Linked DNA regions of Homo sapiens: region 2 is linked to region 1. The links come from fine-mapping of genetic effects on gene expression. Tissue or cell type: whole blood. Region 1 holds a variant in brackets; the other region holds the start of a gene. All regions are shown on one strand. Distances are between the middles of the regions.

Region 1 (6,141 bases):
GTAGCTGCTTCAGAGTTATTGGACACAACTGAAGAAGGAAAAGTCATGCAGTGTTAGCTTATTGTCAGCAAAAGTAGTGTCAGGAGACTCCGCGGTAGAAACCTTGTAACATTCTAATTCTAGCTCTGCTGCTGAGTCATTCAGTGACTTTGGTCTGACTGGTATCTCCATCTCCCTTGATTTTTTTTTTTTTTTTGAGACGGAGTTTCGCTCGTCGCCCAGGCTGGAGTGCAATGGCGCGATCTTGGCTCACTGCAACCTCCGCCTCCCAGGTTCAAGCGATTCTCCTGCCTCAGCCTCCCGAGTAGCGGGGATTACAGATGCCCGCCACCACACCCAGCTAGTTTTTGTATTTTCAGTAGAGACCGGGTTTCACCATGTCGGCCAGGATGGTCTCAAACTTCTGACCTCAGGTGATCTGCCCACCTCAGCCTCCCAAAGTGCTGGGATTACAGGTGTGAGCCACTGTACTCGGCCTCTCCTTTGATTTTGAATAGAAGCACCAGCAAAGGCTAGATGGTAAAGAATACTGATACTAAGAGGCTACTTTGAAGATGTTTATAAAAAAGGAAAAACCGTGTTAAGATGATGCCACTATTAATGATGGTCATTTGTTGAATGGACAAAAGAGCATGCCATTTCTGGCCTCAGTCTGACAGACTCACTTTCCTACTTTTCCAGAGCATGGTGGCCATAGAAAGTGGATTGCTGGTCCAGCTTTCCTGCCTGATGATAAGGTTTCCAGTGCTTTGATACATAAGATTGTCTTCAGTGATGTCCAGGTGACCATCTGGCAGCCTCCCTTGTGGAGAAACTTAGTAACTTGATCTAAGGAATTAACAGTTCCTTTCCTTCATCTTCAGTGTACTCCTTTGGTTTGGACATTGACATAATATTAATAGAAAAGGAAACAGGAACTAGCACTGTATCTATAAAATAGTGAGAGTTAGAACTCTCTGTCCCCTGGACTCAGTTCTGAATTCTGTCCTGCTGGGCAAGCCAGAGCTGAACACACTGACTGAAGTTGTCTTCTGCCCACAGGGAGCAGATGTGAACTGCACTCATGGCACACTGAAGCCCTTGCACTGTGCCTGTATGGTGTCAGATGCTGACTGTGTGGAGTTACTTCTGGAAAAAGGAGCCGAGGTAATGTTTTTAACACATTCACATTAATGACTCACTAAAACTTGAGCTTCATGTTTTCTTAGAATTTCTCCCCATCACTCCTCCATCTCTTCCCTCCTCCAGTCTGAACTTCTAACTCAAGGTAATGTTGGCATAGCCAATATTAAGGAAAATGTAATGGTAAATATATAAAATGATCTAAGGATTTCATTCTTTTACCTTTCTGTCCCCACCCTGCTTGCCCCCATTGTATGGTGCTGATACTCTGCCTTTCTTTCTTCTCCTTAACTTAAGCTGTCACTGGCCATCACTTCAGGAAGCTTACCTTGTAGGGGCTGTTTATATTTCCGTTTAATCTTCTCATTGCTTATTGTCTATCCAGGAGATATAAATGCAGAGATCCCTCAACTCTGATTAAATCTAAAGTACCCTTAAAAGTACTTAAAGTACTTAAGAAGTGGTACTTAAGATAGGTTTTAGCCAAATAAAAGGTTGAATTTACTTAAATGTTTCAGGGTTTTTTTTTGTTTTTGTCTTTCATTAATGAGGGTATATGCTATTTGGAAATTTGAAGAAAAAAACTACAGGTGATGCTGACTGTCAGCAAGCCAGCTGCTTTTCCAGCACTGGGAGATTTGTGCTCTTCCTATCACATGCTTTCATTTGGGTTCTCTTGTGAACCCACAGCATATTTTTGCAAAGGTCTGACTTATATTCTAACATTTTGAATTTCTCTGTATGGTTAAAGAACTTAGCAAAAGCTATGTTTTTCAGTTTGGTTGCTACATTAGCCACAGGGTACAGAAAGGGTCAGGGTAAGTAAAATAATCCAAAACTCTGTATAGTCAAGCAGCTTTCCAGTAATGTTTCAGAGCAGTTACGGGGACTTAGACTTCCTCTATTCCTGCCTTACCCCTTACTCTGTGGTAGAGATTCTAATGAATAGATAAAAGAACATTGCAGCAAAAACCAAAATAATGCAGACCAGCTAGTCAGTGCACATAATAGTGTTGACTGTTTGAGGACAGTTCTTTTCCTTTTTGCTCCTAAGCTCCTGTCATATCTTCATCTTTATCACCAGGACTCCCTGGGAGTTGCTTGCTGACCCTCCTGTTCAGAGCACTGCATAGCAAAGGTAGTGGGTAACCATGCAAGCTTCTTTGCTGCTGTCCTGTCTTCCTCTCAGTAGTCTGTCTACTGTAATAGTTCCTCCCTTTTTACAGGTGAATGCCCTGGATGGGTATAACCGAACAGCCCTCCACTATGCAGCAGAGAAAGATGAGGCTTGTGTGGAGGTCCTATTGGAGTATGGTGCAAACCCCAATGCTTTGGATGGCAACAGAGATACCCCACTTCACTGGGCAGCCTTTAAGAACAATGCTGAGTGTGTGCGGGCTCTCCTAGAGAGCGGGGCCTCTGTCAATGCCCTGGATTACAACAATGATACACCGCTCAGCTGGGCTGCCATGAAGGGAAATCTTGAGAGTGTCAGCATCCTTCTGGATTATGGCGCAGAGGTCAGAGTCATCAACCTAATAGGCCAGACACCCATCTCCCGCCTGGTGGCTCTGCTAGTCAGGGGACTTGGAACAGAGAAAGAGGACTCTTGCTTTGAGCTCCTCCACAGAGCTGTTGGACACTTTGAATTGAGGAAAAATGGCACCATGCCACGAGAGGTGGCCAGAGACCCGCAGCTATGTGAAAAACTGACTGTTCTGTGCTCAGCTCCAGGAACTCTAAAAACACTCGCTCGCTATGCCGTGCGCCGTAGCCTGGGACTCCAGTATCTCCCCGATGCAGTGAAGGGCCTTCCACTGCCAGCTTCTTTGAAGGAATACCTGTTACTTTTAGAATAGCCGGAGAAGATGTTTGCACCATCGTGCAGGCAGCTCTGGGTGAGGTTGTCCCTGCAGTACTCCTTGTCACAGAAAACAGAAAAACAGTTGTTCCTGTTGTGTGGTTTATAGATTTCGAAGCAACATGTCACAACAATAACCTCCATAGCACCTCCCCTTCCCAAACCAAACAACCCAACAAAAAAAATCCCTCACTTTTGTTTTCTGTTTATTGCTTACCTGGCTTTTTATATTGCATTTTGCAAAAGAAGAGGTCTCCCTCAATCCTCCCCTTTAGGGAAGGAGTCAACAGTGTAACTAAATTTCTCTAGGAAGATGGAAAGTACTTAAATAATGTGTGTGTGGTTTTCCTTTGGGGACGTGGTTAACGGTCCAGAAGAATCCCTTCTAGAAAGCATTTTAGGCCAGCCATGGTGGCTCACGTCTGTAATCCCAGGACTTTGGGAGGCTGAGGCAGGTGGATCACCTGAGGTCAGGAGTTCGAGCCCAGCCTGACCAATATGATGAAACCCCGTCTCTACTAAAAATACAAAAATTAGCTGGGCATGGTGGCATGCGCCTGTAATCCCAGCTACTCAGGAGGCTGAGACAGAAGAATCGCTTGAACCTGTGAGGCAGAGGTTGCAGTGAGCCAAGATCGCGCCATTGCACTCCAGCCTGGACAACAAGAGCAAAACTGTCTCAAAAAAAAAAAAAAAAAAAAAAAACCATTTTAATTGATCTGTGAAAAAACTTAAGAAAATCACAATTTCAGCTAACAGCAATTGTGTCCCAAAGATGAAGATACTATAACCTCAAATGGTGCAGATCCAGAACTGGGCTGGATGACATCCCTACTGTGCCATGTCCTGGGGCATTTGGAAGGGACTGGACCTCTTTCCCCTCATCAAAGGAAACAGCAGTCTTTGCCTCTTTCTGTTGGTTGTGCCCAAGGGCTACAGTAGCTCTGAAATAACAAGAGCTCTGTAATAACAGTAATAAATAGCTCTGAAATAACAGTCCTAAGAACTCCTAAAGTCCTGAGAACTTTTCTTGTAATGCAGCTTTTTCTCTTCCTGAGAAACAGTGTGTTCTAATGGG[A/C]TTCCCAGGCAGTTCCTACACCTACGGTGTGTGTTCCAGCAGGGAGGAGTTATGGGCTGGGCTGCCTTTTCCCATGGGTCTTCATTCCCAATGGAAAGTTCACTCTGCTTAGTTTGGAATTATTTTTCTTTCAGTTGTTCTGGAACCTTTGCTTTTTATTGATTTATACAATACAATTGGTGGGAGGGTGGACTTGGGATGGGAGTGGGAAAAGCATGTAAGAGCTCCTTTTGTGATGGTCCATCTACCCAAAAGAGATCTGCTTTAGTGAACGATACTCTTTCATTTTTCTAAATTAGATCAAGTTGTTATTGATTTTAGATGACTTGTATGCAAATTTGAAAAACTTTTTTTTTTAAAGCTGATTGGGAACTACAAACAATGAATGGAATCTACTGACACAGCTAATTGGAAAACAGATGTCTTCTTCTGTCCTATTGATGCTGGTGTTTAAAAAACATCACTTAAAAAAAAAGAATAAATAGTTCTAAAAGCAAGTTTGGCAATTTCTACTTTTCCTACTTTTCTCCAACCCCCCTTAGAAAAAGTTCTTCGTTTACTGCCTGGCTGTTCTATGTAACTTTCCATCCCAACCTTTCTCCCATTAGCAGCAGTGATTCTGGGCATTGCTGGAGTGAACAGGAGGGCTTGGGCAGAGTATCTGAAGAGCTTCCCCTTCCTTTATACCTTCTCCCACCCCAAATTTGGAATTACTGCTTTTATGTTCTCAACTCCAGCTGCACATAAAATCACTAAGGAAGCTTTTTAAAAACACTGGTGCCAAGATTTCACCTCATACCAATTCTTTGGAATTTTCTGGGGTAGGACTGGGGGCTTCAGTGCTTCAAATATAGCCAGGAATGAGATTCCACTGTGTTAGTCAGTGGTTCTCAATCCTAGTTATTAATTAGAACCACCTAGGAAAATTTTTAAAAATACTAAAGCCCAGGCTCCACCCCCAGAGATTGATTTAATTGGTCCAAAGCAGACCTAGTAGGGCTGGCCACAGTGGCTCACGCCTGTAATCCTCACACTTTAGGAGGCCGAGGTGGGAGGATCATTTGAGACCAGGAGTTGAAGTCCCCATCTCTACAAAAAAATAAATGAATAAAGTAGACCTGGGCATGAGTACGTTCAAAGGTCCCAGGTGATTCTAATATTCTGGTAGATTTATAAACTGCTTGAGATGCTACTTCATTTCTCATCATAGATACTTAATATTCTAGAAAGAGAAAGTTTTGTCCATGTGGGAAAAAATGTTACCTGTTTCTCAGTTACTTCATAATCACTTATGTGGTTGGTGGCTAATAAATTCTGCTTCACCTCCACTTAAGAGTTCAAACACAATTTCACTTATCTTTTTAGCTCTGGGGAAATAGCATGCACCTTCATAGGTTTTTTTTGTTTGTTTTTAAGTGGTCTTCACTATGCCTTTTTTTCCCAGATCGTATCATCATCCTAAATTTTTTACTCTTTACAGAGTGACATTTTCCCTCTGATTAACTTTCCCTGAGCCATCCTTCCCTCTTCATTTTCTTGAGGAAACAGCTCTAAGATTAAAGACAGGAAAGAGACAGAGAACCTATAAATCAATGGCAATTAGCATTTAAAATGTTCTGAATGAATGCCTGAACCTTCCCTTTCACTTTGTTTTCATAGGCCTTATGGCTCTGGGGATTTGATATGGCATGATAAGGAAGCAGGAATGGGGAATGAGGATGAGGTTTGAAGTCAGAACTGAGTTTGAGTTCTACTTGAATAATATTGAAGGAGACATTATGTAATCAATCACCTTGAGCTCCAGTGTCCTCCTTTCTGAAGTCAGGCTGTCACCATTGCCCTCCAAAAGCTACTATGAGGATTCAATGATGAAATGCCTACCACAGTGCTTGATATTTATTGTTAATTTCTCTTCCCACTAAAGAACTGTGCAAAGAGTATTTGGCTGCCTTATTCCCTGACTCCAGCAACAAACCTTCTCAGTCACTATTTAGAACTGTTTTTAGAGTTTGGCAGTGACAATTTTTCAGACAGCCAGCAAGTAGTGTACTAGAGATAATCCCTTCCTCCACCCCCTGTG
Region 2 (5,092 bases), 30 kb after region 1:
AAAATTAACACAAAGTCACTGCCGTATATACACAGATGTGTACATACGACATGGGAACACCTTCATATTTTATTCTTTAGGGATCACCTCTCTCAAAGGAACACACAAGAGGACGTATTTTTGTATCCATAAAATGCCAGTAGAATTATCACTCTCCCAGTTTTTCAGGCTAAAACCTGTTATTTTAAATTTATCTCCTCCCTTCCTCTCAGATTCAAAACAGTAACTAAATCCTATTATTCTCCCTTCTTATTATCTTCCTTTATCCATCCCCTCCTTTCTATCCTCATTGCCATTTTCCACCTGAACTGCTTACTACAATAGCTGGTTTCCCTGTGCTTGTGTTCCTTTCTTCACTCTATTAGACACACAAAATAAACCTTCATAGGAAGGTCATAGGTCCCTAGGCTTCAGTGGAGATGTGTATTCATTCACAGGAACCCAAGTTTTACGGGCAGCTTGTGCTTGCTTCTACCCTGCATTTGGAGAACTCAGGGTAGCTGCCTATAGAGACATAAGTCACATAAACACCCAAATCCACACAAATAATAAAATAATGCAATGAGACATATATGAAGACATACATTCACAAACATGCATTGTGTTAACAGACAGAGATTAATGAACGTACTACATATAATCAGTACTAACAAATAAGGTCCCAACTTGTTGGGTTGGCATTCGAAGCTTCTACAATTTAGCCCTTGCATATAGCTTCAACTGTTGGTCCTATAGATTCTCTGCTCCATTGTCACCTGAACATTACTTTGCTCTTCCCACTTTAGTGCCTGGGCACACTGCATCCCTTGTCCAGGTGGCTACCCTGGCCCTTTCCACAGATTCACATCCCATTCCATCATTTAAGACCAGTGATAGTTGTACCCTTATTAAACCTTCACTGATTACCACAGGTCAAGGAAACCTTCTTTTGGACTTCCTCTAACCACATGTTGTCTAAACTGGATCACTGCCTCCCAGGTTCAAGTGATTCTCCTGCCTCAGCCTCCCGAGTAGCTGGGATTACAGACATGCACCACCACACCCGGCTAATTTTTGTATTTTTAATTGAGACGGGTTTTCACCATGTCGGTCAAGCTGGTCTTGAACTCCTGACTTCAGGTGATCCGCCCACCTTGCCTCCCAAAGTGCTGGGATAACAGGCATAAACCACCATGCTCGGCCTGCTTTATGTGGCATTTTAATAGTTTCGTACGCACTGATAAGAGGGTTGGACTAGATCAGGGGTCAGCATACAACAGCCTGTAGGCCAAATCCAGCCCTTCTCACATTTTTGTATGGCAGTAAGCTGTGAAAGGTTTTTATATTTTTTAGTGGTTGCAAAAAGTACTTCATGACATGTGAAAAATGTTAAGTTCAAATTTCAGTATGTGCACTACCTTCGTTCATTCACGTATTATCATGGATGTTTTTGTGCTACAACAGCAGAATGGATATTGTGACAGAGACTCATAAGCCTGCAGTTTAAAATATTTACTATCTGGTCTTTTACAGACGAAGTTTGCCAACCACTGGACTGGATGGCTGCTAAAGTCATTTTTCCTAACTAGACTGAGAACTCCTCCAGGGCAGGGATCATGATCATTTTTAAAAACTCTCCCACAGCTCACTAAAGACTTGCAAAGTCTATGCACATTACAGGACCCCAATAAATACTTGTTGAAAACGTTAATGAACTGATGAACTACATGAAATACAAATATATGAAAAATGTAAAATCGGCTTAGATACAGATATACCTCCATATTCTACTTTAAAACACACTTTTAACTTGGACTTGAGAAATCATATAGTGACAAACAGTGAAAGGAACATAGAGACACGCGTGACTAGAGACGCTCTTATTTAACTGGAATGTTCATGTCCAAATTTCTGCTGTTTTCCAAAAAGAAAGATTAAGTGACTAGGGCAAATAGGAAGGCAAAAAGGTGGAAAGGAAAAAACAAGACATCTGGGTATGCTGATCCCTTTCCTCCCGTTTTTTCTTCTCATTCACTCTTGGAGCTCATGACGGGGGCAGAATCCCACACAGAGCTCTTCCACCCCTGGAAGCGTCAGTGAGGGAGAAAATTCGCCATAACAAGAGGAGTTTAAGAGTGCTGACCTGTAAAAACCGCTCATATTCTTCTCCTGAAATCTCTAAGACAGTTATAGAGGCACAGGACACAGAAATTCATGCAGACTCATGTATAAGCATCCCTTACAGACCCACAATGACACGCACGTAGACAAAAACAGACAGATATTAAAACATATCTCTAAAATCACGTGCGTATATAAGCACGCGGCAGGGAGGAACAGAAAAGCAGCATCATAGGAGCACTGATTTGAATTGGGTGAGTGCCAGGGTAGGGTCAGGCAGCCAAGGGCAACCCGTCCGAGCCCCACCCACCCATCCCAGATTCCTGGGGAATGCAGCTGAGCCTGCAAGCGGAGGGGACTGGCCAAGGGGCTAGGATCCTTCACGACTGCCCTGCCCATCCCCCTCTCGGCTCCAGCTTAGGATGCCGTATCTCTTCTTTTCCTTTCTGCTCCTTTCAGTTCTCCCTACCGCCTGCTCCCGGCCCATACCTTCCCACCTCACTCCCAGCTCTCCCCCTTGCTCTTCACTCAATGGCCCCTCTTGCCTTTTAGTCTTAGCTCTCCTCCGCCGCTGCTTTCTTGCAGATTGTCCTTGGGAAAGGGGGGAGGGGTGATGGACGAACATGGGGAGGAGCCAGGTGGAGGCAAAGAGGGAGGGGGAAGGAGGAGAGGCTTCCCAACCTCCACTAACAGATGCTGACAAGAAGGCTCCGCCTCCTCCTGCTTGCCTTTCTCCTCCTCTTCCTCCTCCCCCTAAGTACTCAGCTCAGATATGGCAGCGGCTTAGTTCCTTCACTCCCCAGAGTCCTGGGGTCCTCATATCTATCTCGAGAGCCATCAGCATCTTTATTTAATGGGAATAATAAATTATTTCGTTGCTTCTCTTGTTTTCAACACAGAACTTTTTCCTAGTCCAGACTGCCTGAGACACCTTGCATTCCAACATCTTCAGCAACTGCTAATAAAACCTGCCCCTGTGGCCCTCTATCCGTCTTTAAGCAAACATTTCTTGGGAGTCTGTGTGCTAGATTTTGCATTAGGTGCCGAGAGGTTTAAAAAAAATAAATATAGTCCCTGCCTTTGAGGAACATTGAATTATGACATCTTCTATAGAATAGCCTCAAAAACTTCTTTTACATTTACATTACCTTTCTCAGAGAAAGTACAGAAAAGCTAGCTATTTGGAATGAAAGTGTCAAGAGGGAAGGGCGTGTCTGTGAGGCCACTTCTCAAGCCTGCAGTGGGGAGGGATGGGGGCGGGATTCTGGCAGTGAAGCAAACATATAAATTGGGCTTCACAGCAAACAGGATCCACTCTGGAAAAAGGGTCAGATGCTCCCAGAGCAAGAGGTGCATCCATTACTCAAGTCTCACCTTCCCTTTGCTTCATTGTCTCCACAGTCGGGTCTCCTCTTGCTTTTACCACTGCCCTCTTCCTCTTGCTTACTTGTATCTCTACCTCTGCACATTCTGGCACAAACAATACAAATGCAAGTGACTAGGAGATAAAACCCCATTTGACTACACAAAATAAAAGCATTTGTTCTCCAAATTATACCATCAAGAAAGTGGAAAGACAACCCACAGAATGGGAGAAAATATTTGCAAATCATGTATCTGATAAGGGGCTGGCATCCAGAATAAATAAAGAACTCATTTGCAACTCATTAAGAATGTAAACCAAAAATAAAATTATAAGCCCCTCAACCATCTGAATAGACCCCTCCTCTCAGTCAAGGGTATTCCAAAGTTAATCTGAAAAACTAGTTCAGACGTTGATGGAAAGGGGAAGCCAGACACACTTCATTATATGCTCCTCCCTTTTGGAATTACTGATAGAACAGACTCTTTAAGTCTGATAAGAAACATTTACAATCTATTCTCTGAAACCTGCTACCTGGAAGCTTTGTCCACCTGATAAAACCTTGGTCCTCACAGATTGCTTTTCTATTAAGTCTTTGGACAATAACTTAACTCTTTTCACCAATTTCCAATCAGAAAATCTTTGAATCTACCTATGACCTGGAAGCCCCGCTCCCCCCTCCCTGCTTCCAGTTATCCCGCCTTTCTGGACTAAATGAATGTACATCTTACATATATTCATTGATACCTTATATCTCCCTAAAATTTATAAAACCAACTTGTGGCCCGACCATCTTGAACACATGTTCTCAGGATCTCCTGAGGGCTGTGTCATGGGGGAGCTATTGGTCACTCGTATTTGGCTCAGGATAAATCTCTTCAAATGTTTTACAGTTTGACTCTTTTCAGTGACAATAAAAAGAAAATACCTCAATTTAAAAATGGGCAAAAGAGTTGACCAAAGAAGATATACAGGTGGCAAATAAACATGAAAAGATGTCAACATCATATGTCATTAGCGAACTGCAAATTAAAACAGTGAGACACCACTACACACCTATTAGAATGATTAAATGATTAAAATTCAAAAATCCAAATGCTAATGAGAATGTGGAACCACTGGAACTCTCATTAATTGCTGGTGGGAATGCACAATGGTACAGTCACTGTAGAAGACAGTTTGACAGTTTTTTACAAAGCTAAATATTGTCTTACCACATGATCCAGCAATAGCACTCCTAAGTATTTAGCTGAATGAGCTGAAAATTATGTCTGCACAAAAAACCTGCACATGAATGTTTATAAAAGCTTTATTCATAATTGCCAAAAGCTGGAGGCAACCAAGATGTCCCTCAAAAGGTGAATAAACAAACTGTGATACAGCTATACAATGGAATATTTTCCATCAATAAAAAATTATCAAGCCAGGAAAAGACATAGTGAAACGGGCCAGTGTGAAAAGGCTGCATACTGTATGATTCCAACTGTATGACAGTCTGGAAAAGGTAAAACTACGGAGACAATAAAAATATCAGTTGTTACTGGGGCTTGGGATAGAGAAGGAGAGATTAATAGGTGGAGCACAGGGGATTTTAGGGGCACTAAAATGATTCGGTATGATGCTATAACA

Evidence for each region. PIP is the estimated chance that this variant, and not a neighbour inherited with it, causes the effect.
Region 2: it holds the start of PFKM, and the variant in region 1 is fine-mapped to the expression of PFKM in whole blood (TOPMed, PIP above 0.99).

The regions. Positions count from the first base shown.
Region 1 is chr12:48,146,206-48,152,346 of GRCh38, reverse strand. It overlaps PFKM (phosphofructokinase, muscle), which reads right to left. Exons shown (of 23, transcript NM_000289.6): 23 at 5,943-6,141. It overlaps ASB8 (ankyrin repeat and SOCS box containing 8), which reads left to right. Exons shown (of 4, transcript NM_024095.5): 3 at 1,042-1,146; 4 at 2,349-4,558. The coding sequence ends at 2,981. Among named protein-coding and RNA genes, the nearest start is that of ASB8, 8.2 kb to the left of the region's middle. The variant A/C (reference allele first, on the strand shown) is at 4,062.
Region 2 is chr12:48,116,960-48,122,051 of GRCh38, reverse strand. It overlaps PFKM (phosphofructokinase, muscle), which reads right to left and starts at 2,688. Exons shown (of 23, transcript NM_000289.6): 1 at 2,646-2,688. RefSeq lists an enhancer at 3,023-3,092.